Linked DNA regions of Homo sapiens. The protein of the gene in region 2 interacts with the protein of the main gene of each other region in a pairwise test. Each region holds a gene or a part of one and is shown on either strand. Other genes may lie near its edges. The genes, in order: CBLIF, SLC7A14, ERMP1 and FAM20B.

Region 1 (7,034 bases), on a different chromosome or scaffold from region 2:
TTCTGGACTTACCTCTTCCCACATCTTCCTAAATAGTACCTATTCTTTGTGTTTCAAAGCTACAAAGTCTCTTTTGCCTGTTCTACTCTGCAATGGACTTTCGAATCTCCTCTGAATTTTTGTTTTTAAAACTTCATCATATGTTGACTTATATGATTTAAGTTTTCATGAGAGCCTTACCTATTTATTAGATTGAAAGCTGCTCAAGCGCTATTAAATAAAAATCTGTTATCAAAAGGAAAAAAATTAGGAAAACAGGATGGATAAAAAATGGGAATTCAGATCAGGCCTTGAGAGAATGATGAATGACATTTGTAATACTCACTTGAACATAGGATTTTTGCGCTGTGCTTCCTCTAGGACAACAAGTAACACTGACCCACTTTTCACACTAACATTGATGGTCTCGTTGAAGAGCAGCTCAACCCCCCTCAGCTGGTTATTTATGGTGTATATGACAGTGATGTTAGATGCAGAGGTGGGGCCAGGGCCAGGGTTGCTGGGTAGAGTTGGTTGTACCTCATGATCTGTGAAGGGCAAAGAGGCCACATTTGTCAAAGATTATGGGGTTTGTATCATAGGTGCAAAATCTCTGTTATTGGCAACTTACCCCAGAAGACATTTTGAGAAAGTAGTGAGTTTCATACCATTTAACAAAGTACTTGGACAACTAGCATAGAATTCCGGCAAAAACTCCATGGCCACCTTGTTAAGGTTGGGACATCACTGGGAAGCAGCCTAAGGGGTTGAGTGAATGTGGTAGTTTTTGGTAGGATTGGGATCAGTTTGCTTGATTTTGGTCTCCACATTCTGCATTGAGATAGACGAGAAACTTATTAATTGCTTCTTGTCTTAGGAAGTTCATGCAATGCAAGAGGAATGATGCTTTGTGTTAGCATTTTATTAAAAAAAAAGAGTTTGAGGAATCCATACCAAACACTAGTAATCTCTGGAGTAATAAGTTTTTATGCAAGACCTCCACTTTCCAAATGCATATTTCTGTAATGTTTGAATTTTTAGTGTCTTTCAATTATATGCATAATTGGATAAAATAAAGATATTTTTAATTAAAAAGTGGCATGCTAGGTTTCCACTCCATCTCATTGATATATTGCGTGCATCGAGCTTTCATATTTAGATCGTTAAGGCTCGATTTAAATATGAATTCTGTTCTTCTCTGAAGCCTCCCAAACAAAATCAACAACTGGTCACTATTTTTCTTTTTGGCATTTGCACTGTGTGTGGCTTTAACTTCTATTTAATACTTACTCGATTGTCCCAAATATTGTAGTTTTTGTTTACACATCTGTCTTCTGACTTTGTGAAAGGCAGATATGATAAGATATGCATAGTGTTTGATGGTACATTTGTGAAATGAATAAATGAAGCTATATGTTGTTTGATAGCTGGGACCATGGAGCTTCTTCTACCTCTAGTATCCCACAAAATGCTTTGCACATAGTAGGAGCTAGGTAAATATATGCTGAATGAAGTAGATATGGGGCTGAGTTCTGAGTGCAGGAAGGTATGTCTGTGTGCTAGCACACACTCTTAAGGACTGGGAGTCAGATGTACTCTGCCCACATGGGAATAATGGACATTACAAGCCTATATGCCACTTAACATTGATCCACATGTCATTTCTGGCATAAGTTGCTGCTTTATGACATAAGGAGAGGTGGATGTCTTACCAGGACTACAAGTGACCTGGGGCACATCTAGGTATGTCTTGCCTTTCAGGGAAGGGAGGATTTGAGCAATGGACATGGGGTTGTGGAATTTCCCCTGCTTAATCTCATTGAGTATCATATCCGTAGTCTTCTTGCAGTTCCATTCCTTTTTAGATGGCTCAGGTGTTACAGAGAGAGCCTGGGAAGGAAGACAGAAAGAGAGAGAAAGAGTAATTAGGCATAGCTGAGAGTTGGCTCTTACATGTCTTAAGAGATAAACTTGATCACTAATCATGGTGATCACGTAGTCACCCAGAATGCAAAGCCAATGCTATGTAAGGTTTGGAAAACATTTGTCTTCAATGCTATGTCCCCACCACTTAGCACAGTGTCTGTCAGACAGCAGACACAGAACTGTGCAATGATCAGATCCAGGGAACACTATTAGGCAGTCATATTTACGAACGACTCTTGAATGTAGAGTGAGGGTGAGAGCTGGGCTCCAGAGGGAGCTTTAGCCTAGGACAGTCTAGCCACATAAACGGAGTAGACCCCTTGTTTCATATTGCCATGTGCCCTCTTTGATGGACTTTTCCCTCACTTTGTGCTTGTGTCAGGACTCTCAGAGGCTCCACAACCCTGGCCCAGGATGGACTCATGACCTGGACTGGGCTGATGGTGGTCACCATCCCCTTGATGACAGTGATTGGTGGACACATGTACTAATCAGAATCATTCCCCGACATACAGACATTGGGACACCCAAAGATTTTTTTTTCCTGCTAAGGTTATTCAACTGGGACCATGCAAATAAACGGTAAGCTGCTAGTGACCATCTTTCTCAGCCACTTTGAAGAAGCCCTGCAGCAGGAAAGAATGAGGAAAATCAGGGCTGGACGATGAAAAAAGAGTGGCTCCTGATATCATGATTTGAGCCCTTTATTCTGGTTATTCCTGAAACCACCTAATTCAGCCCTAGACTTCCCAGTGTATGTGAATAGTAAATCCTCATTTTTTTCTTGAGCTAAAAGGATTTGGGTTTCTGTTACTTGCAAAATGAGTCTTGAGTAATACACCAAGCCATTCAGCCATTCACCTATTTTGCTGCGTTATCTATCGCATGAATAAAATAGAAATAATAACTTCTGTCTATTGTTGGGGGAGTCATTTGCGGTTCCAAGGGGCTAATGTATAAAAGCATTTCGTGATGTGTGATGTGTGATGTGGAAGCTGTCATTACCACCTCCCTTCCTTTACAGTGCGATTATGGCCACCAGAGCATGTTAATAGGCTGAGATTGTTAATGACTGGTTCACCTGAAGCTTGGAATAGGAAATGGGAGAAGAGAGAGAGAGGAGTCAGAAACGGCTGTCTCAGCTAGGGTCAGTATGCACAACTGGGCAGTTGTGACAGGGACAACCATCACTGAACCTCAGCATCTATGAAGCATGGCTCTGGACAGAGGCCACTTTACAAGGCAGTTGCTTTAAGGGCCATCAGGTGGGTGCTCCTCAGCAACAATATCTTGTCCACTTGTCATATGCACCTCCCAAATTTCACTAAGCAAGGTATATTCATTGGGATTACACATCACCAATGCCAACACTCTAGAGAGGATAACACATTAAGTGGTTAGACGTCATTAATAACTTTCCATCAAGAAGTTTATCAGTTCTCTTTTTCTTTTCTTTCTTTCTTTTTTTTTTTTTTTTTTGAGATGGAGTCTCGCTGTGATGCCCAGGCTGGAGTGCATTGGTGCAATCTTGGCTCACTGCAACCTCCGTCTCCCGGGTTCAAGTGATTCTCCTGCCTCAGCCTCCTGAGCAGCTGGGATTATAGGTGCCTGCCAGCACACCAGGCTAATTTTTGTATTTTTAGTAGAGATGGGGTTTCACCATATTGGCCAGGCTGGTCTTGAACTCCTGACCCCAAGTGATCTGCCCGCCTCGTCCTCCCAAAGTGCTGGGATTACAGGTGTGAGCCATCACGCCTGGCCTATCAGATCCCTTTTCAAGATAAGCGCCTATCAGAGGAAACTTGAAAGCAATAGGATATTCATGGAAGAAAGATGAGAAGTTCTGGAACAGAGGAAATGCCTCATGAGCGTCTTTGGGTAGGGAAGAGTGTGGCCTGGGCCACTGGAAGTGTACTGACATCTTGGAAGAAGGTGAACAAAGGCTGAAAAGGAACTTTACTAGCATCACTGCTCTGCTGAGACAGATCTTGAACAATTGTTAAGCATTACATTATGCATGCATTTTTTTGCATACCACATTTTATTTAACCTAATTGCAACCTTATTATTATGGGGAAAATAAAATCTGGGGAAATTCAATATTTGTCTGAGATGGTGGCAGGTGTGGGAGTCAAACCTAAATTGTGATAGTTCCAGAGCCCTTTGATTTTCTATATCAGAATATTTTAGATTAGGAAAATATTATATATTAGACACCTATTGATTCCAGATTTCAGGATGCCTAAATAAGTTCCAGATAGAGGCAGTAAAAAGGGTAGGGAGAGATTATGTATTCTGACAAGAAATCCACATGGCCTGTGGTATTTGGATGTAGACAGGGTCCTGCCTTTTGATAGGAAAAGCTCTAATTCCCAGGTACAGCTTATCAAAGTGTACTTGGCAGGTGATAAAATCCAAACAGAATTCACAAACCAAGTTAGCAAAAGTAAACACTTCACTGTCTGGTGATAAATTGAAGCAAGGTTATTTTTAGAGAGTCACACATAAAAAAAAAAAATCCCCAAACCATCTTTTATATCTCTTCCAGACTGCCTTTTTCTTTCCAAAAAGCTTCTAGACCAGAGCACTGGGAATGTTCTTGTAAAATTCAGCCATGGAAAAAACAGGGTTTTGTTCTATGACAAAGTCTCCTTGACTGTGACATAGAAATGAACTCTATTTTTATTAGTCACTTCTATATGTGGTCCATTGAAGTGGAAATTTTTTTTTTTTTGCTCTTATGTTTAACATGAACCAATTCTTAGGCTGCTTATATCCTTTTCTAATTTTTAATGTATGAAATCTCAATACTAGTCTCCATTGTTTTCCCCAGGAGACAATTTCTTTCTAATAGTCCGCAACTATGTTAGGTTTAGGGCTGGCATCACCATTCCATGATTCTCCCTTTAGTGGGCTTTCTGAGTTGAAGAGTCCCTGGTCCTATTAATCCCCATAGGACATTTTGAGACACTGGAGCTCAAACTTCTTAGTTGGGATTAGAGGATTCAGCCACAGATGGTTGCTAGTTTCTGATTCTAGTTGGTTATTTCTGCCCACCACCATTGGTGCATCTGTCTTCTATGGAGGCTGCTGCCCTAATCAACTAGGGTAGGGTGGGTTGTTGGATTTGGAACTATGAATACCAAACACATCTTACAGAATCCAAGCCTGGGAATGCATGCTGTGAAAGCACAGAATTGAATATGGACTTGGCTGACAGATAGATCTGCTTTACCATTTACTATGGGTTTTTGTGAGGCTGGGTCAACTTTAGGTTATTTTCCTTAATCATTTTGAGTATAAACTTGCTATTTTTAGATCAAGGTAAAACACTGAAAAAGAACACTTGGCTGGTAAGATTGCATCAGAAAATTGTATATTTTTAGAGGGCCTGCTTTAATATTCTTATTATTTATACATCAAAATTGTAATAGTCTGTAACTATTACAAATAAACTGATCATTATTAATAATAAATTAATATATTTCTTGATTTATTTGTTTCATTTTTTTTCCCAAGAAAGAGAAACAAGTTCATATAGATTTGTTTTCACACTTTACATAGGAGGTAGGGAGGAATTAACACTTACCTGCATTTTACCAGTAGAGAAACTGAGGCCCAGGCACCACAAAGAATATATCTCAGGTCATACTAGCTGGACTTTCACAGAGATGTTAGTAGAAGCCTGGCCTCTTGATTCTGCAATCCAGGCTTATTGGCAGGAACCCAACCAAGAGCATCCAGCACGTGTTTACCTGCATGGCGAGGCCAGTACTGTAGATGTCTCCAATGATGCCATTATCTTTGATCTTCATGCTGATTTTCTCCACAATATCCTTTAGTACCTGACCAAACAGGGATCTGTAACCTTCCTCTGAACCTACAGGGATCTTGTTGTACATACAGGTCAGAGCCAAGGTTGCCATTGCTCCTGTGTCTGTGAATGACAGAGGGTATAAGATCACCATAGTCACCATCACAGCAATATGAACAGCTAACATTTATTGTGTGCTTATTATATTCTGGCTCCATGATTTTATTTGCTCCTCAGAACAACCTGTGAAACAGTACCTGTAATCATCTCCATTTAAGAGACAAAAAATGGAGGCTCAGAAAAATTAAGTAAGCAGCAGGGCCAAATCTCCATTTGAAAGTTGCATAACTTCGTTAAGGGTGCTAGTGTTACTGACAACCAGAAGTAAATAAGTCCAAATTTTTGGAGGCAGAGATGCCCCAGAAATGTGTGAGGTCCCAGATGTGAAAGGGAGACCAGTCTGTTCTTAACCCCCAGGGAGGATCCTAGAGCAGTGGTTCACCTGTTTGTCTGACAGAAACTGAAACAAGAGAGGTTGCTGATGGGGCATGCATAAGGGAGTGAAAACCTGAGATAATACTATTGCTTAGAGAGTTGGCAGAGGAGAAAAGGTGATCATGAATGCGGGCTGTGACAGTGGCCCCCACAGAGAAGGATCATTATCCATAGAAGGGGACAGAAGGAGGACATGATGTTGTAGAGGGAAAAGCTTCTATTCACAAGCAGCCATATGCTTGCAGAACAAAGACGCAAGGTGGTCCCCGAGTTGCCATGAAGGGAAATATCACGAGTTAGGGTTCCGAGAGTAGCTGTTTAATGGAGAGAGGATATTTGGATGTAATGAGGAGAAGCATCGAAAAGAATGGAGTGTGGGAGCATCAGTAGTGATTAAAGAGAGGATGCAGAGGAGAACTGAAGCAAGACATTCATATTTAATTTGGGAAGAACTTCTGACTTGAATGGCATTACTATTGTTCCCAGCGGAGATTCTGTAGCTGCCAGACATATCAAGTATTATCAATTGTCCTTGTTTCTACATAATACTACCCCCTCTTCCTTCACTTACTCCTCAATTCACCTGCCCAACAAACATCTGGTAAATATCTCCCATCCACAGGCACGTTCACATCCTTAGCTCCTCCTCCATGGGACGCTCTCCTTTGTCACTTCCCTGCCAGCTCCACCATTCAGTTCACGATGCCTCTGATGTTCCCAGCTCGGGGTAGTGGTGACCTACTCACCTACATTGAAGGGAGAGGAGTTGGCCAGCAGGGTCTTGGCAAAGCGGACGGCTATCGGCAAGGTCGCCTCAGAG
Region 2 (5,062 bases):
GGATTGTTTTTCTTCCCCTGCTATCGAGGCAGGTGGACCATTGCAAGGGAGATCAGGGAGTTGCAGGAAATAAAGATATGGCAGTTTCTTTGCATCCCATGTGATATGGAAAATATGTGGCCCTGCTACACCCTCTACCTTTTTCTCCAGGTATCACCACCTGCGCCATCAACAAGTAAGATCAATTAAGCCACCATCAATGCTATGGTAATTTGGTTTGGGACTGTAGGCAGATACTGTTCTTCTAATTGTTCTTTAAAATAAATGGGGGCAATGAACTGAATGTTCTGTATTAGACATAAGATGGTGCAGAGGGTGTGGGGGGCTGCAGCTTGAGTAGGACTGCACCGGGAGAGGGGTAATTAATGAGGCAGTGTAGTGAGCAGGGTCCCTGAGAGAGCCCTGTACCCTTGTTAGAAGAACGTGAGAGGGAGACAGCGCCAGGTCAGGTTCTTCTGAGAGCCCACTAAAGTGGAACTTTCATGTTCTCCTCATGGAAGTAAAGTAAATTTAAAGGGGTAGGATGGCACTGACTTTCTTCAAATTTAAATTTTATTAGTCGATTAGCTGTACTTTTTAAAATGTTTTATTCTGAAAATGAATTTTCCACAATAATGCAATTCAAAGTGAACTCATTTATCTGGCTTTTCTACAAAGGACAATTGAAACACTTAAGGCGAAATTCACTTATTCATCTCCATTTAAGAATGGAAAAAAAGTAACAGACTTCAGATACTGGTTAAGGTTAACAAAATATGGGAAGGCTCCTTTTTCTTTTCTTTCTTTTTTTTTGGTAGTCTCGTGTAAAAGCTTTACATTACTATGGATATTTTATAGTAAGACACTTTTGTTTCTGACTTTCTTTATAAACCCATTTTTAAATTTAAAGGCACACAATAAAGCTTTATGCATTTATTAAAATATACACATTTTGTTAAATTTAGAATTTTCCCTTAGTATCTTGATAAATCAATATATTGTCAACACCACACATTTGAAAATAAAACACATTTCATAATACATCTGCATATTATTTCTTTCTTCATGATACACTACATTGTACAGCACACCAATGGGAATTAAAAACCACAAAACGAACAAACTTTAACAAATACAGCAATTTCATACCAAAAAAAGATAGCAGAGAACAACACTAGGAATTACCATCTGTAAATGCAAGTTGTACTTCTCAAGGACGAAACGAAAAAGAAACAAGTTAGTAAAATTTACAAGCTGTATTTATAACTTTGGATATTAATTAAACAGTAACGTTTCTTTTCCACAGTGAGAAAAGCTAGAATGTGGAGTCCTGTCATCAGATGATGTGACTACATGGAATGAGGACTATAGCTGCTCTCTTAAAAACCTGCAGCCCCCTCTCTCAGCCCAGACAGTTGAGGTATTTATGCACCATCATAACATTAACAGCATCTTTGCTTTGGAAAGTGGGGGTTTATGATTTCTAGGGTAAATCCTCGCCTTTGGGAGTGTGAATGAGACAAGCGTATCAGCAACTGCCAAGACCAATCAATAGATGTGCATGGAACATTCTCTTCATCCCCAAATCAGAATGAACACAGTCCTTTAAAGTCTGCACTGCAGGTGAAATTCACATGACTCACAATTCCCTTTAGCCAATGTTACCGAAGTCAGTGTCAAGAAAACTTAACAGAAAAAAAAAAAAGCACAGAGTGAGTTCCTACCATAAAAATCCAGGCTGCCCCTGTTTCCTAGCTCTAATATAAGCCATTTTCTTTCCTTATGTGTACCAACATGTACTAAATGTCCCAAAGAGTAAGAAATTAGAACTACCTGTTGTCCGAAGACCTTAAGCCCAAAGCTATCTGTGAAAGTCCTATAGGGATTTTGTAATTCTGTGTGTGCAGAACACAGTTAAATTATTATTATTATTATTTTTGAGACGGAGTTTTGCTCTTATTGCCCAGGCTGGAGTGCAATGGTGTGATCTCGACTCACTGCAACCTCTGCCTCCCGGGTTCAAGCGATTCTCCTGCCTCAGCCTCCCTAATAGCTGGGATTACAGGCATGCAACACCACACCTGGCTAATTTTGTATTTTTAGTAGAGATGGGGTTTCTCCATGTTGGTCAGGCTGGTCTTGAACTCCTGGCCTCAGGTGATCCACCCGCCTCGGCCTCCCAAAGTGCTGGGATTACAGGCATGAGCCACTGCGCCCGGCCCAGTTTAATGATTTTGTACACTGTTTTAGTTGATACTGCAGAACACATATTCACCTTTGATGGGCTACAAAACTTCCACTCACCCCTTGTGGGTTCTAAGTCCTAAAAAAAAGAACACTCTATTTTCTTAGAGAAGTAATTTTGGCAAAAGGCGACTGCCTAGCTGTTTCAGAATGATTTCAGAATGATGCCTGCATTACTCAAGCAGGACAAGAAGAGGAAAGCATTTTAAAAAGGAAGTTGCTCTTAAGGAGAAAAAAAAATTAAAACAGCCTTTCTTCTAAAACTCTTAGAGAAAATAAAAGTAGGACATAGGACCAACCATTATGTACATGAAAGGGGCTTTTTGCTACCCATCCCCATTCCCAGCGAGAAATACTAAGTAAACTCCTTGGTGAAACTTCAGCTTTCTGGTTCCTGCGTGTGGTGGGGCCTGCGGTTTGGGATGCTGTTTCTGCACTTGCTCACTGTTGAATTTCAAATACTCTTTCGTGGCCAGGCCACCACTGGTTACCTGCTGGTGCCTCTCTCTCTTAGGATCTCCAGAGGTCTTTGCAGACACGTGGGTCCTCAGTTTCAGGGAGCTACACAGGTACAGGGGAAGCAGAGGCTCCATGAAGACTTTGGATAGAAACATCTTCCTTGACACGTCTTGTTCCAAACAGCATGAAAATGGAGCGCTGGCACACAGCCCTCGTGGCGACTTCTGGATGTGTTTCCTTTGCTCTCCTCTCTTTCCCTCCATTGGAAGTTAGGGACACCTCTGCACTACTCACTGACCTGAGGTTTATACTCCAATAGTGGACCCCTACCCGCTGCGTAGACTCCGTAAGCAGACCCCCGCTCTGGCTTCAGACACATTTCCTGAGTTCTGACTTTTCCACACAATAAGACATTCTAATCTGAGATTCATAATTAGGTAAACCTGTGTTTGGCCCTCCGCGGACTTTCCTCTGACATCTTGGGCCCCTGGTAAAACCTAGTGCGAAAGGGGACGGCAATTTTCTCCAGTCTTCTATGTGGATTTTCAACCTGATGTAGCTTCTGTTTATGTTGCAGATAAGAGGTGGTTTCTTGTAAGGTAGACTTCCAACAAATGTTGGATGTCTAACAAATGTTGGATTTGTCTTCCAATAAAAGAAAGGATGTCAGGTTTACCAACCCTTTTCAGCAGAATAGAGGAGAGAGATTTCTTTGAAGGAGTTTGTGTTTTGTTTTTCAATAATTACTAGATTTATATTCTGGCTGACCTATAGATTCTGAAGAAGGATGGATTGTTAAATTCAACAACTCCCTTCCGCCCGCCATTTATTTAAACAGATTTATCATGACCATTATGTAGGCATTTGATTAGCTACTAGTTTGTTACTAAGAAGTAGAACTGGCACACGCCTATAATCCCAGCTGCTTGGGAGGCTGAGGCAGGAGAATAGCTTGAACCCGGGAGGTGAAGGTTGCAGTGAGCCAAGATCATGCCACTGCACTCCAGCCTGGGTGACAGAATGAGACTCTGTCTAAAAAAAAAAAAGTAGCACTCAAGCTCAGTAAAACCTGGAGCTGAGATTTTACTGTTTAGATTAGATAGATATAAAAAGTTGTTAGGTTTAGTTGTTGAAACCTATTGTTGAAAACTTTAAAGTGGCTGTTAAATTGTGTTGCTTGTCCACGTATTAAATGGCTGTATTTTCTTAGGTTAATGATGAATGCAGACACAGGACTCAAAGTACAGCTATTTTTCTCTTTAATTTGTTAAATCAATTTGGAGTGTATATGTGGCTTGTTAGTTCCTTGCATAGGTAAGGAAGCCACCGTCTCAGCTTTCTTAAAGTTCAGCCTTCCTGGATTCACACTTTCGTCAGTTCCCCAATTATTTCCCACTCTCTCACCCGAGGAAAGCCAGTCAGCTCAGTGTGACATTCAAGTCTCTCTGTGAGTGATCCCTCACCTGCCTTCCTAGCATTATTTCTTATTGTTGCATGTATAAGTCATGCATAAATCATGTGCTCCAGGCAAACTAGCTCCTTGCTTTCTCTTAATGGAGGCACAGCACAAATTCTTAGCCAGAGGACCACAAACTAGTAGACCTTATTCATGCCGATCCTTTGCTTGGCATGCCTTTCTCTCATTTCTACTTGATAAAATTCTACCCACTTCACAAGTTCCAACACAAGTGTGACATTCTTTATGACCTTTCCAGAGGAAGAAGGCCTTCTTCATATTTGACCCCCCACAGCACATTACAAGTCCGTCATCTCACCTGACACATTCACTATTGTTCTTTATTTATATATCCCATTTCCCCTATTTGATTTTCCTTTTTAAGAGACAGGGTATTCTTCTGTTACCCAGGCTGGAGTACAGTGGTGTGATCATAGCTCACTGCAGCCTTGAACTCCTGGGCTCAAGTGATCCTCCTCCCTCAGTCTCTCAACTATCTGGGATCATAGGCACATGCCACCACACCAAGCTCTATTTCCTCTACTTCTTAAGAGCTGGATTTTTATCTGACTTACGATATCAATATCTGCCATAGTACATAATAGGCACTCCACAAGTAATTGTTGAATAAATATTTCATTTTCCTCCAATTCATTCATTCTGTCAATCATCAGGTATTTCTTGAATACACACTATATGCCAGGCACATGTAGCTAGCAAAATCTAGGTTTGAAGCTTACCTGTGGATTTTAATGATCTATGCTATTTCAAACCTCTACCTGCATGGGGAAAGATTTGTTCTTATCATGCAGAAGTACTTCTTCTTGTCATTACCACTAATTCTATTATTTTTCATGGTGTCACTCATTGGCAAATTTAGTAAAGCATGTCAGGGTTCTGCATTTATGTACTAAATATACGTCT
Region 3 (7,034 bases), on a different chromosome or scaffold from region 2:
TCCAATACTTGAAAATCAATTAATGTCATCTATTACATCAAAAGGCTAAGAAAGAAAAATCACATGCCCATATCAATATATGCAGGAAAAGCAACTGACAAAATCCAAGACCTATTCATGATAAAAACTCTCAGTAAGCTAGGAATAGAGGGAACTTCCTCAGTCTCATAAAAAACATCTACCAAAAAACGTATAGCTAACAACATACTCAGTGGTAAGAAACCAGAAGCTTGCCTAGATCAGGAACAAGGCAAAGATGTCCCCTCTCACAACGCCTTGTCAAAATCAAACTAGAAGTCCCAGATAATGTAACAAGTCAAGAAGTGGAAATAAAAATTATAGATATTAGGAAGGAGGAAATAAAACTGTCTGCAGATGATAAGATTGTCTATTCATAGAATCTTAAAAGAATAGGCTGGGCGCGGTGGCTCACGCCTGTAATCCCAGCACTTTGAGAGGCTGAGGCAGGCGGATCACAAGGTCAGGAGTTTGAGACCAGCCTGGCCAACGTGGTGAAACCCTGTCTCTACTAAAATTACAAAAATTAGCCAGGTGTGGTGGCGGGTGCCTGTATTCCCAGCTACTTGGGAGGCTGAGGCGGGAGAATCACTTGAACCCAGGAGGCAGAGGTTGCCGTGAGCCGAGATCGTACCACTGCACTCCAGCCTAGGTGACAGAGTGAGACTGTCTCAAAAAAGAAAAAGAAAAAGAAAAGAAAATCTTCTTAAAGAATAAACCAAACAAAAACAAAAACAAAAACAAAAACAAATCTCCTAGATCTAATAAGTGATTATAGCAAGGCTGCAGGATATGAGGGTAATAATCTGAAACTCAGTTGCTTTCCTGTAGACCATCAATGAACAATACCATTTATTAATACATTAGCACCCCCAAAAATAACTACTTAAAAATAAATCTAACAAAATATATATAAGGATTCTATAAGGAAAACTACAGAACTGATGAAAGAAATCAAACAAGATAAAAATAAATGGAGGGATATTCCAACACGGATAGGAAAAGCCATTATTGTTAAAATATCATTTCTTCCCACCTTGATCTACAGACTCAATACAATCCCAATCAGAACTCCAACAAGTTATTTTGTGAATATTGACAAACTGATTCTAAAGTTTACATGGAAAGGCAAAAGACAAAACACAATTCTGGAGAAGAAGAGTTGGAAGACTGATACTACCCAACTTCAAAACTTAACTATATAATTACAGTGATCATGACAGTTGTGGTATGGGCAAAAGAACAGAGAAATCAGTCAATGGAAAGAACAGTTTGGCAGTTTCTTACAAAGCTAAACATAGGCTTACCATATATAATATCCAGCAATCACACTCCTAAGCATTTACCCAAATGAGTTCAAAAACCTGCCCAGGAATCTTTATAGCAGCCTTATTCAAATATGGATAACTGCTGTACATCTACACAACGGACTATTCAGCAATAAAAAGAAATGGCCTATCAAGTCACAAAAAGATATGGAGGATCCCTTAAATGCATACTTCTAAGTGAAAGAAGTCAGTCGAAAAAGGCTACATACTCTGTGCTTCCAGCTATATGATACCTGGAAAAGGCAAAGCTACAGAGATAATAAAAAGACCAATGGTTGCTAAGGAGAGTGGGAAGAAAAGAGAGATAAATAGGTGAAGCACAGGGCATTTCTAGATGGTAAATCTATTCTGTATGATACTGTAATGGTAGATACATGGCATCACACATTTTTCAATACCCATAGAACTACACAACACGAAGAATGAACCCGAGTGGGAACAACAGGCTTCGATTAATAATAATATATCAGTGTTAAAACTGGTGCATCAGTTTTAACAAATGCACCATACTAATGCAAGACATTAATAGAGGAAAATCGGGGGGCAGGATATGAGAACTCTATAATTTCTACTTAATTTTTCTGTAAACTTAACATTGCTCCAAAAAATAAAAATAATTTTTATTTTTGAGACAGGGTCTTGCTCTGTCACCCAGGTTGGAATGCAGTGGTGCTATCAGCCTTGACCTCCTGGGCTCAAGTGATTCTCCCAGCTCAGCCTCTCAAGTTCTCAAGTAGCTAAGACTACAGGCATGCACCAACATGCCCAGCTAATTTTTTTTTTTTTAATTTTGTAGAGACGGGATGTCACTATGTTGCCCTGGCTGGTCTTGAACTCCTGGGCTCAAGCAATCCTCCTACCTCAGCCTCCTGAGTAGCAAGCATAAGCCACCATGCCTGGCCTATTAAATTTTTGTTAAGAAGTCATAACCAGCTTTGGCCGGGCGTGGTGGCTCATACCTGTAATCCCAGCACTTTGGGAGGCCGAGGCAGGCAGACCATGAGGTCAGGAGTTCAAGACCAGCCTGACCAACATGGTGAAACCCTGTCTCTACTAAAAATACAAAAATTAGCCAGGCATGGTGGCACACACCTGTAATCCCAAATACTCAGGAGGCTGAGGCAGGAGAATCACTTGAACCCAGGAGGCGGAGGTTGCAGTGAGCCGAGATCGTACCACTGCACTCTAGCCTGGGCGACAGAGCGAGACTCCATCTCAAAAAAAAAAAAAAAAGAAGTCATAACCAGCTTCAATTGATTTTAGAAACATCACAGGCTCTTCCTAAGTTGCTGGTTCCTGTGATATATCTGAGGGAAAAACATACATGCCACTTATTAACAAGTTTAAGAAATAAAGGAGGGGAGAAAAAACTATTATATGACTTACCTGTTGCTTCAAAAGTCAATTTTATAGAATCCCAAGGTGTCTGTTCTTTGGATATGAGTCGGAAATGAGGAGGATTTCTTGGAGAAACTTCTGGGGCAGGAAGATACCAGTTTTTCCTATTTAGAAAGGAAGCTTCAGTTTTAGGGTGCTTTATTATTTGATGGCTATCTGTAACTCACAGAACTGTTCAGCATATATGAACACATTTTTGGGTATGAAAATAAACTGACAGACATGATAAGCAATGCCAACTCCAACAAATTTAGGTTATTTTGTAATAAAACCTTCCCAATGTTAAGAACAAAGGAGTAACCTAGGTGATCTTGATTCCACCACCCATCCTATTTCTTCTCATCCAGTCCTTCACTGCCAAGCTATAAAATCTTCCCAGAGAAAACAATTTTTTTTTTTCTTTGAGAGACAGAGTTTTGCTGTTGTTGCCCAGGCTGGAGTGAAATGGCGCGATATCGGCTCACCGCAACCTCCACCTCCCGGGTTCAAGCAATTCCCCTGCCTCAGCCTCCCGAGTACCTGGGATTACAGGCATGCACCACCATGCCCGGCTAATTTTATATTTTTAGTAGAGACACGGTTTCTCCAGGTTTGTCAGGCTGGTCTCGAACTCCCGACCTCAGGTGATCCACCCGCCTCGGCCTCCCAAAGTGCTGGGATTACAGGCATGAGCCACCGTGCCCGGCCACAATTTTTGAGATAGATGCTTATTGGCTATTATATTAGTTAGAAGGGCCACCTTTTCTAACCACTCAGGTTTCTAGAGAAAAGATTTTTAAAATTTGAAAAAACAAAACTACTCTTCTGAGTGCTTTATTCCACTAAAAAAAAAAAAAAAGTTTCATAATGATAGAAAAAATAGTACAAACACCACTGAACTTGTATATTAAAGGATGGCAGTTTAAATGATAAGAGTACTGATATGGTGACAAGACTTGAGAACAAACTAACCTTAAGCAGAAAAATAATGAACCAACCTGATCAGAAAGTGCACTGGAAGATACCAAGGAAAACCACAAAGAGGTGCATTCTCCTCACAGTGAGCTCGGATACTATCATTGATCTCAGGAATGTGAGGGGTTATGTGAGAAATTCCAGTATAATCAAACCCATTGATCCATATTCCAGAGTCCCGTTTAACTGCATTTCCTTCCAAGTCATGGAATGTTCTAGTCATATGCTGAAAAAAAAAGACTAGTGAAAAAACTGTTTCAACTAGTACACCCACATTCCCACCCCAGATTACAAAAATGGAGTATGACAATACCAAGAAATGATGTGGATATGGAGCAAGTGAATAAGACACTGAGAGTTTCTAAGGTACTGCTAGCGTTCTTTATTTTAAACTGGAAAATAGATATATAGATTATTGTTTTATTGTATCTTCCAAATATATTTAGGATTCCTATAAAATGTTTTTGAAACTTACTATTTCAGACTTAAAAGACGTTAATGTTAGAGCTGCTTTTAGATAAGGATTTAAAACAAATACATCCTAAGCACATATATACATACACACTCATTTCCCTATTAGTGTTTTATGAAGCTAATTCATGTGCAGAGAAAAGTGGGAATTGCAGCTCACCACTAGATGACAGCCTTGTGCCTAACAGAATTCTATGAAAAGGCACCGTGCTCCATTTGAAATAACTTTATTCACGGCAGAAACCAGCCTGAAGAATACCAATCAGGAAAAAAACAAACAAAAAAAAACACTGCATAGGGCAGGAGCCGGCAAACTGCAGCCAACAGGGCAAACTGTCCACTGACTGTTTTTATATACGAACCATTATTTGAACATGGCCACACTCATTTGTTTGGGTATACTCTGTTGCTGCTTTCGCTCTGTTTCACTGCAACAGACTGTATTGCTGACAAAGCCCAAAATATTATCTTGTCCTTTACAGGAAAAGTTTGCCAACTTCTGGCACAGTGGAAGAGAACCCCCAAACAAATCAGAAAATGACTTTTTAAAAATAAAAATCCTGCTTTTCCTAAGTATTACTGACATAATTATAAAACTTAATACATCATGAAAAACACACTGAACCTCCTAAAAAAAAATCCGTTCTTCACTAAAGGTTTTACAAATTGTAAAATCTCACATAAAATTTATCACAGTGTCCTTCAGGACTATAACAAGGAATTGTTATTTGGCCCCTTTTCAAAACCTCCTAAGTGTTTTTAATTTTTTAAGTCCTTGAATAATTATCTAGGTATAATTCCTCTGGCATTTCTGTTTGGCTAGATTAGGTTAGATGTGACTCTTGCCCTTAAGGGTATATGTTATCTTGAAGCAGGATCTTTCACTTACAGAGTATAAAATACAAATAAGAATTATGCAAAATATACAATATGTTAGTATGTGTTCACAAACATGAGAAAGGGATGGGTATAAGGCATAAGATAATTTGTGTAGTATGAGAACTTTTAAAAACAATTTAGAAAAACTAACAATTTAGCCATCTCTAACAGAGATGACTAGAATTGAGGCTTACTGCTTTATAGTACCAGGTCTAAAAAATTTGAAGAAAAAGTTGAGATCTAAAATAAGTCCTCAAACTGGCCAGGTGTGGTGGCTCACACCTGTAATCCCAAGCACTTTGGGAGGCCGAGGTGGGTGGATCACCTGAGGTCAGGAATTCAAGAACAGCCTGGCCAACGTAGTGAAACCCTGTCTCCACTAAAAATACAAAAATTAGCCAGGCGTGGTGGCGAGCGCCTGTAATACCAGCTACTTGGGAGTCTGAGGCAGGAGAATCACTTGAACCGAGGGGGCAGAGGTTGCAGTGAGCCAAGATCGTTCCACTGCACTCCAGCCTGGGCAACAGACCAAGACTCCATTTTAAAAAAAGAGAAAAGAAAGTAAGTCCTAAAACTCACTTTATTAAACCCTTTCTAAGTTATAGTTTCACTATCACATATCACTTTGAATGTTACTTAAGATTAATTTTACTAGCACTTCTAAACATCAATTTTATTTTGCCAGTTGACAGTTTAGATTTTACTCAGCCTGTATACATTTTTACAATCTATATTTCTAAAAACTCATTATTCCATAATAAATATTTGCTCCTGTTTTTCCAAATAGATGCAGTTTTATAATTTGAATAGTAATAAAAACAAGCAAACATTTCCAATTCAGTCTCCTGGGAGATATATGTCTAGCTGATAAGAATGCCTCTTGACAGTCAGTCTTCTCCTCACTGCCTTACACACAAAAAAGGTGAGTATGACTAAATAGGTCAACAGCAGAAAAGTCAGCTGCGCTTGCTATTCACTACTGAAGCTCAAAACACACAGGGCTTCCTTTCCAGATCTCAAATACCTCATGCAAAACTGCTCACCTGAAGAAACACTCTCTTTGGCTTCGGATTAGCAGGATTGGAGCTATATGGAAAAAATGTTCCACTGCAAACAAGGAGGAATGTAATTGCACATACCAAAGTTAAAGTTAGCATGGTTTTTTTTGTGCTCTTGGCAAGGTAGATGAAGTTAATCTGAAACACAAACCACAAACACAGAAATATTACAAATTCATTCTAGTGGTGGAAAGGTGTTTTTAACTAACTTTATTTTTAACAGTATTACCTAACAGCCCCTGAAGAAAATTTATCAGCAGGTGCTAGCATACTCTAACATCTAGTAAACAAAGCACTAACTCTAGGAGATTTCCATTGCAGGTGAGAACCTAGAAAATGACAGATGCCTCCAATCTGCCATGATGGTGCCACCTTTTTGGCATGCAGCCAAAAACCAAGAGGGAAAAAGGAAACTCAGGACTGTCGCTGTCCTTAATGTGCGAAAAGAACAGAAATGTAGATGTAATGGATTATTCATTAAATAACCAGAGATAAGCTTTAAGCTTAGGCAGATCTGTTTGGACAAAACTCAAATTCCACTCATAATGCTTTAAAATATGTCAAAATACTAAATTCATCTCAACTGGCATAGAGATGTACCTTCAAGACTCTGCCAGTGGACCTGCATAAGAGGAAAAACTGCATTACAAAGTAATATTATCCCTCTAAGTGACAAATTAACCAATGCCAACACAATCAAAACAATAAATCTAGGCAGTAAATGTAAATGACTCAGTCTCAAGGTTGGCATCTAGAAAATCCTAAATATTTTCAATCGTAATGAAATCGCTGAACTAAAAACTGTAAAGGACACACACGACTCACAGAGTATGTCCACAGATCCCTTACAGGGTCTGAAGAAGCCATTTGGGGAAACTTTTATGTGAAATCTGAAATTGTTCTAAGAAGCCACATTTTAAATATTGTG
Region 4 (7,034 bases), on a different chromosome or scaffold from region 2:
TTTTTGTCAAAAGAAAAAAAAAGCGTAGAAAATGTGTTTCGGATTACTGTTCAAAATATTCTGTAGAGGTGTGTTATTTGCTTCTGTGATTATATGGTGTTCTAAACCACCTGGAGCCTGGCAGTAGCCTGTGCAGGTTCCAGTCAAGTGCAGCTTCACAACCTTGCTCCTACAGTCTGTTCTGGCTAGGCTAATTGGGCAGTTGGATTGATAGCCAGTGTTTTTGCATTAATAGAAGAACTTAGAGCTCTTGGCAATGGCCATGTCAATAGCATTGACCTGACTGCCCTTGTCCCTTATTTTGACGGTGGAAGAGGGGAGTTATCCCTTTTTAAGAGTACTTCTCCAGCAGTTCCTTCTTCTACACCTACATATATCTTCCTGTTTTCCTTCAGCTGTCTCTGTAACCCCAAGTACTAATGAATTCTTTAACATAGGCCTGGGCTGCAGAACAGAAGCTTACTTTGCTATTGAAACCAGCTTCTGACTAACTTACAATGTCAGCATGACTGCTCGAGCTGCCTAGAAGAGAAAATAATGCAAAGATCTCACTTCTGATTTGGTCTTTCTTACCAAAAACAAAAGAAGAAATGCCTAGCTTGGGATGTAAAGAATCTACATGACAGATGGGTGCGTCTGTCATCCCAGTGTGAGATAAGAGAAAAATGTAAGCTGATGCAGAAGAGACCTTGAGCTTTGGTGTGTGTTTAAGGTCTGTACTTTCTGGCAAGATAACCCCTTTAGAGAAGAGGGTGCTAACTTGGGCACGTTATAAAGGCAGGTCAAGGAATATGAAATTATGAATGTGTAAAGAGGACAGAACCAAGTACAGAGGGAGGCAGTGAAGTCTATCATTCCATGCTCTCAAATGTTAACTTTCTGCTTTATATACATAGCAATGCCTCATTTACCTAATGTTGGGGAGTAAGGTATTATATGTGAAAATTTTATTTTAGCTATACCTTTTGTGGAAAAATTTTTACAATATATGCTTTGGTTATTATTACTAGCATACTGGCAGTAGTTGAGTGAGGCTATGAGATGATCGAAAAATGTAGTTTGTTGTCCACTGTGCTTTTTGAATTATTGAATCTACTTGAGTCGATTCAGTAGTCAGTCTTTGTCTTCTTTCAGTGGTGGAAAGCTGCTCTTTTGCTGCTGTTAGTATCCTTGCTGCCCTCTTTTAAATTTGCAGCTTCTTATCTGTGGAGTAGGAGCTTCCTGACATTGAATGTAAAACAGCTAAATTGGCTTAGTTATGTTCTACCTGCTCTTCTCCAAGTTTTAGGGTATGAACTTTGTAACCACTTATTTTTGTTGCCCAGGGACGTTTTTGTTTGTTTGTTTCTTATCGTTGGTGTAGATAGTGAACGTGTGCTCTGTATAGGTGCATTTATGTTCCTGTAGTTTTCTGTAAAAAAAAAAACAAAATAATATGGAAGTACTTACTCGTGTGGGTTCTTGTTTCAGAAAGCACTGCCAATAATACTTGAAGATCTGATTTCAGCCCTGTCTTGTATCATCCTTGGGCAGTGTGTTAGACAACCTCCTTTCTTCCTTTTAGCATTTCCAAATTGTCTTTACTCTTAATCCCAGCCGATACTAGGAACCAGGTTGGCAATAGCAGTGGCCTTGAAAGGTGGAAGCAGGATATACAGAAGGTGGCAACTTTAAATTGAGTGTATATAATTGGTATACATATTCGCTATTTCTGCATCTTTTATATACTGTATACTTGAATTCATTGTAGGACTTATTTCCCCCTGTCTCTGAAAGAGGCAGTCTTTAAACCAGAGAGTTGCCAGTTTAGAAGAAATTCTTATAACCCTAAAGGTCTTTCTCCTTTGCCCTTCTCTCCTTTTATTCCACAAACACTTATCAGATGCCTCTTACAGGCCCTGCACAGTGCTAAGTTACTTGGAAGTACAAAGCGTGAGTAAAATCTATCCCATCCTCAAAAAACACAATATATTAGAAGAGACAGATGTGCCAAAAAAAAAAAAAAATGTGTGTGTGTGTGTTTGTGTGTGTGTGAGTTCATAGTATAACAGAGGGATCATGCCTGGAGCCACCTAGCCATAATTTCAGCACAGATCTGTTTGAGGTTCTCCTGCTTCTGAGAGTGATCTCCTGTGTGGGCTGTCAGCTTGACGTACCATAGAACATAAGGCTAAAAATGCGAGGTCTATTGTTGTATAAAGTTTATGTGGTTTTCCAAGAACTGTAGTGAATTGAACACTAAAGATGGAAAGCATATGAAAAGCTGAAGGAAAATGTTATAATATTTGTAATGCCGTATTTCAACACTATACAGGAATTACCTTCTATAATCTAGCCTTAAATGGTGGTTCTGTACTGACAGTTGTGCTGTGAAATACCTGGAACTTGGGAAGTGTCATTATACCTGGCTTATTTAAAGGAAAATGCAAATTGTTACTCATTTCCACGTAGTGTCAAGATTACTGCGTGTGTTGGTTTTTTAGAACAGAACTCGCTAGCAGTATGAGCTAAAGTTTTTTTCTTTTTCATTTTTCAAGGAAGAGGGTTGCCCTAAATCAAGGTTTAAATGGGACAGGTTGCAGAGATTGATTTTTTTTCAGTTCACTTATTGAAATTATTCAGTTATTGCCTATTTCATTTTTACTTTCACATCCAGCAAGAAAGACTACCTTAATGCTTCATTAATGCCTGGTAATGGTTTTAGTTGCCTTCCTTCAGAGGGAACTTGTTAGAGAATTTCATATAAGTGATTCTGAGTTTACAGATGTAAATAAATGTTTAAATGGAAGTGAAAACAGTAAGGAAAACCTGACACTTGGACCAATTTGGATTATGTAAGAATTAGATTTTCTACACCTGTACTCTTAAGTTACTCTTAAGGCTTATCTTAAGGGCTTTAGCACATGAAAAGCTGTCATCTTTAAAACACAGAACTAATTTTCCAAACTGAAAACAGTTGTGAAAGGCATTCTATTTTAGCCTTTTTTTGTGAAGTGGGATAAGTTCATGCTTCCCATCTGTTTCAGTTACATTGAGTGTGGTAGAATTGAACTTTGTAGAGAAGGGAAACAGGTTGGCCAAATTAGTGACAGCCTCCCAGTCTTCTGCTTTGCATGACACTCACTCTGAAGATATCTATTTGCCTAGTCTTATCTACCTCTCAAATTTAGGCAAGAATTTGGCTCAGAAATACAAGACTACTAATTACTACTAAACTCTTAGTAATGCAATGTGTGGATTTGGCCCCTCACTATGTAACTGAGAAGACAACATTATGGTATATTGATTCCAATGAGGGTTTTCTTTGTCATTTTTCTCCTCTCTGGAGGTCATCTGGGTTTTTGATATGGTGATAATGACTAGCAAGTGATTACTGTGGGTCATCCAGGCACTAATCTTAGCACAACACATGTAGAGGTCTCATTCTTTTTTTTTTTTTTTTTTTTTTTTTTGAGACAGGATCTTGCTCTGTCACCCAGGCTGGAATGCAGTGGCATGATCTTGATTCACTGCAGCCTCAGCCTCCCGAGTAGCTGGCTCATTCATTTTTAACAACCCTGTGAGTTAGGTAATAGTATTCTTGTTTCATTTTTTTATATGCAGAAACTGAGACCCAGAGAGGTCAGAAGTTAAATATCTTTCCCAAGACCCACATTAGGTGGTAAAGGAAGCATCCAGGCCTAGGCATTCTGAATCCAGAGGACATGCTTTTAACCCCTCTGCTACAGAAAGCTTATATTTAAAATAAGAAGGTGAATTAAGAAGCTATTTCTTAAGTGGATAATTAGCACAGAAAAGAAGAAAAAATATCTATAGATACTGATTAATGCTATTACTTAGTATTAGTTTTTATTTTTAGTTGAAGACCCTCATGTGAAGATGAAAGGAAGAATAGCATGCTGTTGTGGCAGGCAGCAAAGCAGGAGTGGGCTGGTTTTCCCAGGGTACTCAGCATTTACTGAGATAATAAACATGTAATGCTGTTTAATATTGGAGGTTTTGACTTTCTGGACATCTTGACTGTCACACAATACTAAAAGACTTCTGAATGCTCTTAATTTTACTTATCACTGCCACTAACCATCAGTAGAGACATTTATTTCTAGGGAACGGGGTGTAAACTCATAACAGTTAATAATAATATGCACAGTGCCCTACTGTCACTGCTAGTGAAAAATCAAAAGGGCAGTATACCAGACAGCCCACGGTAAAAGCGTGTGTGTGTCTAACTTTTTTTGCACTAAAAGATGTGATTTTTGCTATTTATGTTTTGGCTGAAGTACAAAAGTTAGGCTTTATAAACCGGACATGTGTCAGTGTGTGAATGTGTGAGGTTAGCCTTGATTGCTCTGCATAAGTCTAAGTAGGGCTCTGAAGTATGCAAGTGGATTTTAGTAAATGATCCAGTTGAGAATCTATTTCTTCTTGTGGTACCTTTAAGAGACTTTGTTAATTATGTATCTTTCTAAATATATACAATGAAAACAGAAAAATATAAATGACATGTAACTTTTATAATGAGTGTATTGCTCCTAGAAGCCATTAATAATAATTTACAAATATGACCTAACAATTTATCAAACCAATTTTTATTTGCACTTAATGGTTAATTTAGTGATTACTCCCTCCCTGAGATAATTGTTTTTAGTCACGTAATTTATTTCCCTATGTCTTCTCCCCTGGTATTTTTACTATCCCCAAAAGGAGTTGATAGGAGCAGAACAGATGTGAGAATGTTGGGTTTTACAAACTACCTCAAAATAATAGTGGGTTAAGACAATGATTTGTTATTTCTTTCTTTCTTTTTCTTTTTCTTTTTTTCTTTTGAGACAGTCTTGCTCTGTCACCAGGCTGGAGTGTAGTGGCGTGATGTCGGCTCACTGCAACCTCCGCCTCCTGGGTTCAAGCGATTCTCCTGCCTCAGCCTCTCAAGTAGCTGGGACTACAGGCATGTGCCACCATGCCCAGCTAATTTTTTGTATTTTAGTAGAGATGGGGTTTCACCATGTTGGCCAGGCTGGTCTCAAACTCCCTACCTTGGGTGATCCGCCCATCTCACCTCCCAAAGTGCTGGGATTACAGGTGTGAGCCACTGCGCCCAGCCTGTTATTTCTTATAATTATATAGGTCATCTGGTCTCACGTGTTCCTGCTCAAATGGTATAGGCTGGGGTCACAACAGTGACTACATTCTGCCAGACCACAACTGGGACTGGAATGTCCTTGAAAGTGTCATCTTCATGTCTGGCACTTCACCTGGGGTGACCAGGATAGCCAAGGGTTGGCTGGACCTCTCTCCATATAGATCACTTGGCATTTGGTAGTCTTAGCTTGAGCTTCTTTACATGGTAGCTAGATCCCGTGAAAGTGGAAGCTGCCAGGTCTCTTAAGACCAGGGCCCAGAACTGGCACACAGTCATTTCCACAACATTCTATTGTCAAAACAAGTTACAAAGCCAGCCCAGATTCAAGGGGAGGAAAAACAGACTCCACCTCTTTCTCTCTCTCTCTCTCTCTTTTTTTTTAATAATGGAGACAGGGTCTCACTGTGTTACCCAGGCTGGTCTCGAATTCCTGGGCTCAGGCAGTCCTTCTGCCTCAGCCTCCCAAAGTGTTAGGATTACAGGTGTAAACCAGCATGTTTGGCCCTGACTCCACCTCTTGATAGGATAAATTGTTAGTGTCTGTCTTTGCAGACAGTCTACAAAAAATTCAAATTCAAGTCTTACCTCCTATACTCACCAAACCTTCAGAGTTTTAGTCAAACCAATAATTACCAAAGTATTTTGTTAAAGGATCCTTGTAGTTCCTACTCAGGATCAAGGGCAAAGAGATTGTGTGCATAAATATAATTCTATACCAGTTAAGAAATCCTACCCCTTTGCCTCAGATCTCTTTTGTTGTTAGTCCTCTGCATGAAGCATTCTTACTAAGCATTTCCTTTGTGGTGCTTTGCATTTACAAGGCATGTTACATTCTACTTAAGTCATAAGAACCTGATTTGACCATTAAATTAGAAACACAAGAAGTGAAACTTATGTTTACTTTTACCATAACTTTCACTTTTAGTTGCTATGAGCAGAGGTTGGTATTTATTTCTTCTCTATGACCTCAGAGGTAGTATTGTGAGCTTGTCACTTAATCAGAGGGTGATTCAAGGGGACACTTCTAATAAGGCTTGGAATCTCATTGGTGGCTTGTAGGACCCTCTAGTAAGGTAGTAAGCGTTAAGGCCAGGTGTTCTCATGTTCCTTGGCAGCCACATACATTGAGATTTATCACATGATCTGTAGACCCCCACACCAACATGCTTTTCTGTAAATGTTCCTCCACCATCAGCCAGATTTTTTTTTAAGTACAATTTCCATTGTATTTTTCTCCAGAGAATGGTCTGTCTTCAGTCTTTAAGGACTCAGCTCCTTACACGGGCTTTGGTGGGGGTCGTGGGGCAGCACCCACAGGTCTAAATCGGGGTAGGGGTGTTCGGTCCTCGTGGGCTTCATGAGATTGATTCCTGACTACTTTGCTGTGAATTGCACAATTCACACAGTAATGTAGCTTCACAAACAGCTTGGGAAGCACATAGGCATTGAAGACGCTGCTTCAGAAATGTCCCTGACTGCTGTGGCCTCCACTATATTTCGAATGATGAATTTCTTAATGGCCTTGTCCTTAGGCACGCATCAGGCACAGTTCATGCAGCGAATGGCTGCACGTAACTGTGGCCCTTTTTGACATGACTTTTGTTCCTTCTTTTCTTTGTCATCTTGGAGGCATGGACCGGAGAGGAGATTCTTGAAAGAAGACTTTACATTAAGACCTCACTTTTTTTCTGTGGAATCTATATCTCTTCTCCCAAAACAACTTCATAGTCTTACGTTTGCCCTTATACAATATTTATCAAATGAGTAGGATGAGTGTGTTTGTGTGTGTGTGTGTGTAGAATGAAAGTGAATTAGCCGGCTGGGCGTGGTGGCTCACACCTGTAATCACAGCACATTGGGGGGCTGAGGTGGGCAGATCACTTGAGGTCAG

Evidence for each region.
Region 1: the proteins of SLC7A14 (region 2) and CBLIF interact in binary tests that used the Homo sapiens proteins (3 or more experiments, as listed by UniProt).
Region 3: the proteins of SLC7A14 (region 2) and ERMP1 interact in binary tests that used the Homo sapiens proteins (3 or more experiments, as listed by UniProt).
Region 4: the proteins of SLC7A14 (region 2) and FAM20B interact in binary tests that used the Homo sapiens proteins (3 or more experiments, as listed by UniProt).

What each region holds. Positions count from the first base shown.
Region 1 is NC_000011.10:59,835,483-59,842,516, forward strand, and holds part of CBLIF (cobalamin binding intrinsic factor precursor), read right to left. Parts: coding exon 6,961-7,034; intron 5,843-6,960; coding exon 5,661-5,842; intron 1,870-5,660; coding exon 1,692-1,869; intron 528-1,691; coding exon 326-527; intron 1-325. UniProt on the Homo sapiens protein: Promotes absorption of the essential vitamin cobalamin (Cbl) in the ileum. After interaction with CUBN, the CBLIF-cobalamin complex is internalized via receptor-mediated endocytosis.
Region 2 is NC_000003.12:170,459,014-170,464,075, forward strand, and holds the end of SLC7A14 (solute carrier family 7 member 14), read right to left. Parts: 3' UTR 535-5,062; downstream 1-534. UniProt on the Homo sapiens protein: Imports 4-aminobutanoate (GABA) into lysosomes. May act as a GABA sensor that regulates mTORC2-dependent INS signaling and gluconeogenesis. The transport mechanism and substrate selectivity remain to be elucidated.
Region 3 is NC_000009.12:5,795,085-5,802,118, forward strand, and holds part of ERMP1 (endoplasmic reticulum metallopeptidase 1), read right to left. Parts: intron 6,245-7,034; coding exon 6,092-6,244; intron 3,925-6,091; coding exon 3,722-3,924; intron 2,849-3,721; coding exon 2,733-2,848; intron 1-2,732. UniProt on the Homo sapiens protein: Within the ovary, required for the organization of somatic cells and oocytes into discrete follicular structures.
Region 4 is NC_000001.11:179,028,888-179,035,921, forward strand, and holds part of FAM20B (glycosaminoglycan xylosylkinase), read left to right. Parts: intron 1-6,350; exon of another isoform or gene 6,351-6,791; intron 6,792-7,034. UniProt on the Homo sapiens protein: Responsible for the 2-O-phosphorylation of xylose in the glycosaminoglycan-protein linkage region of proteoglycans thereby regulating the amount of mature GAG chains.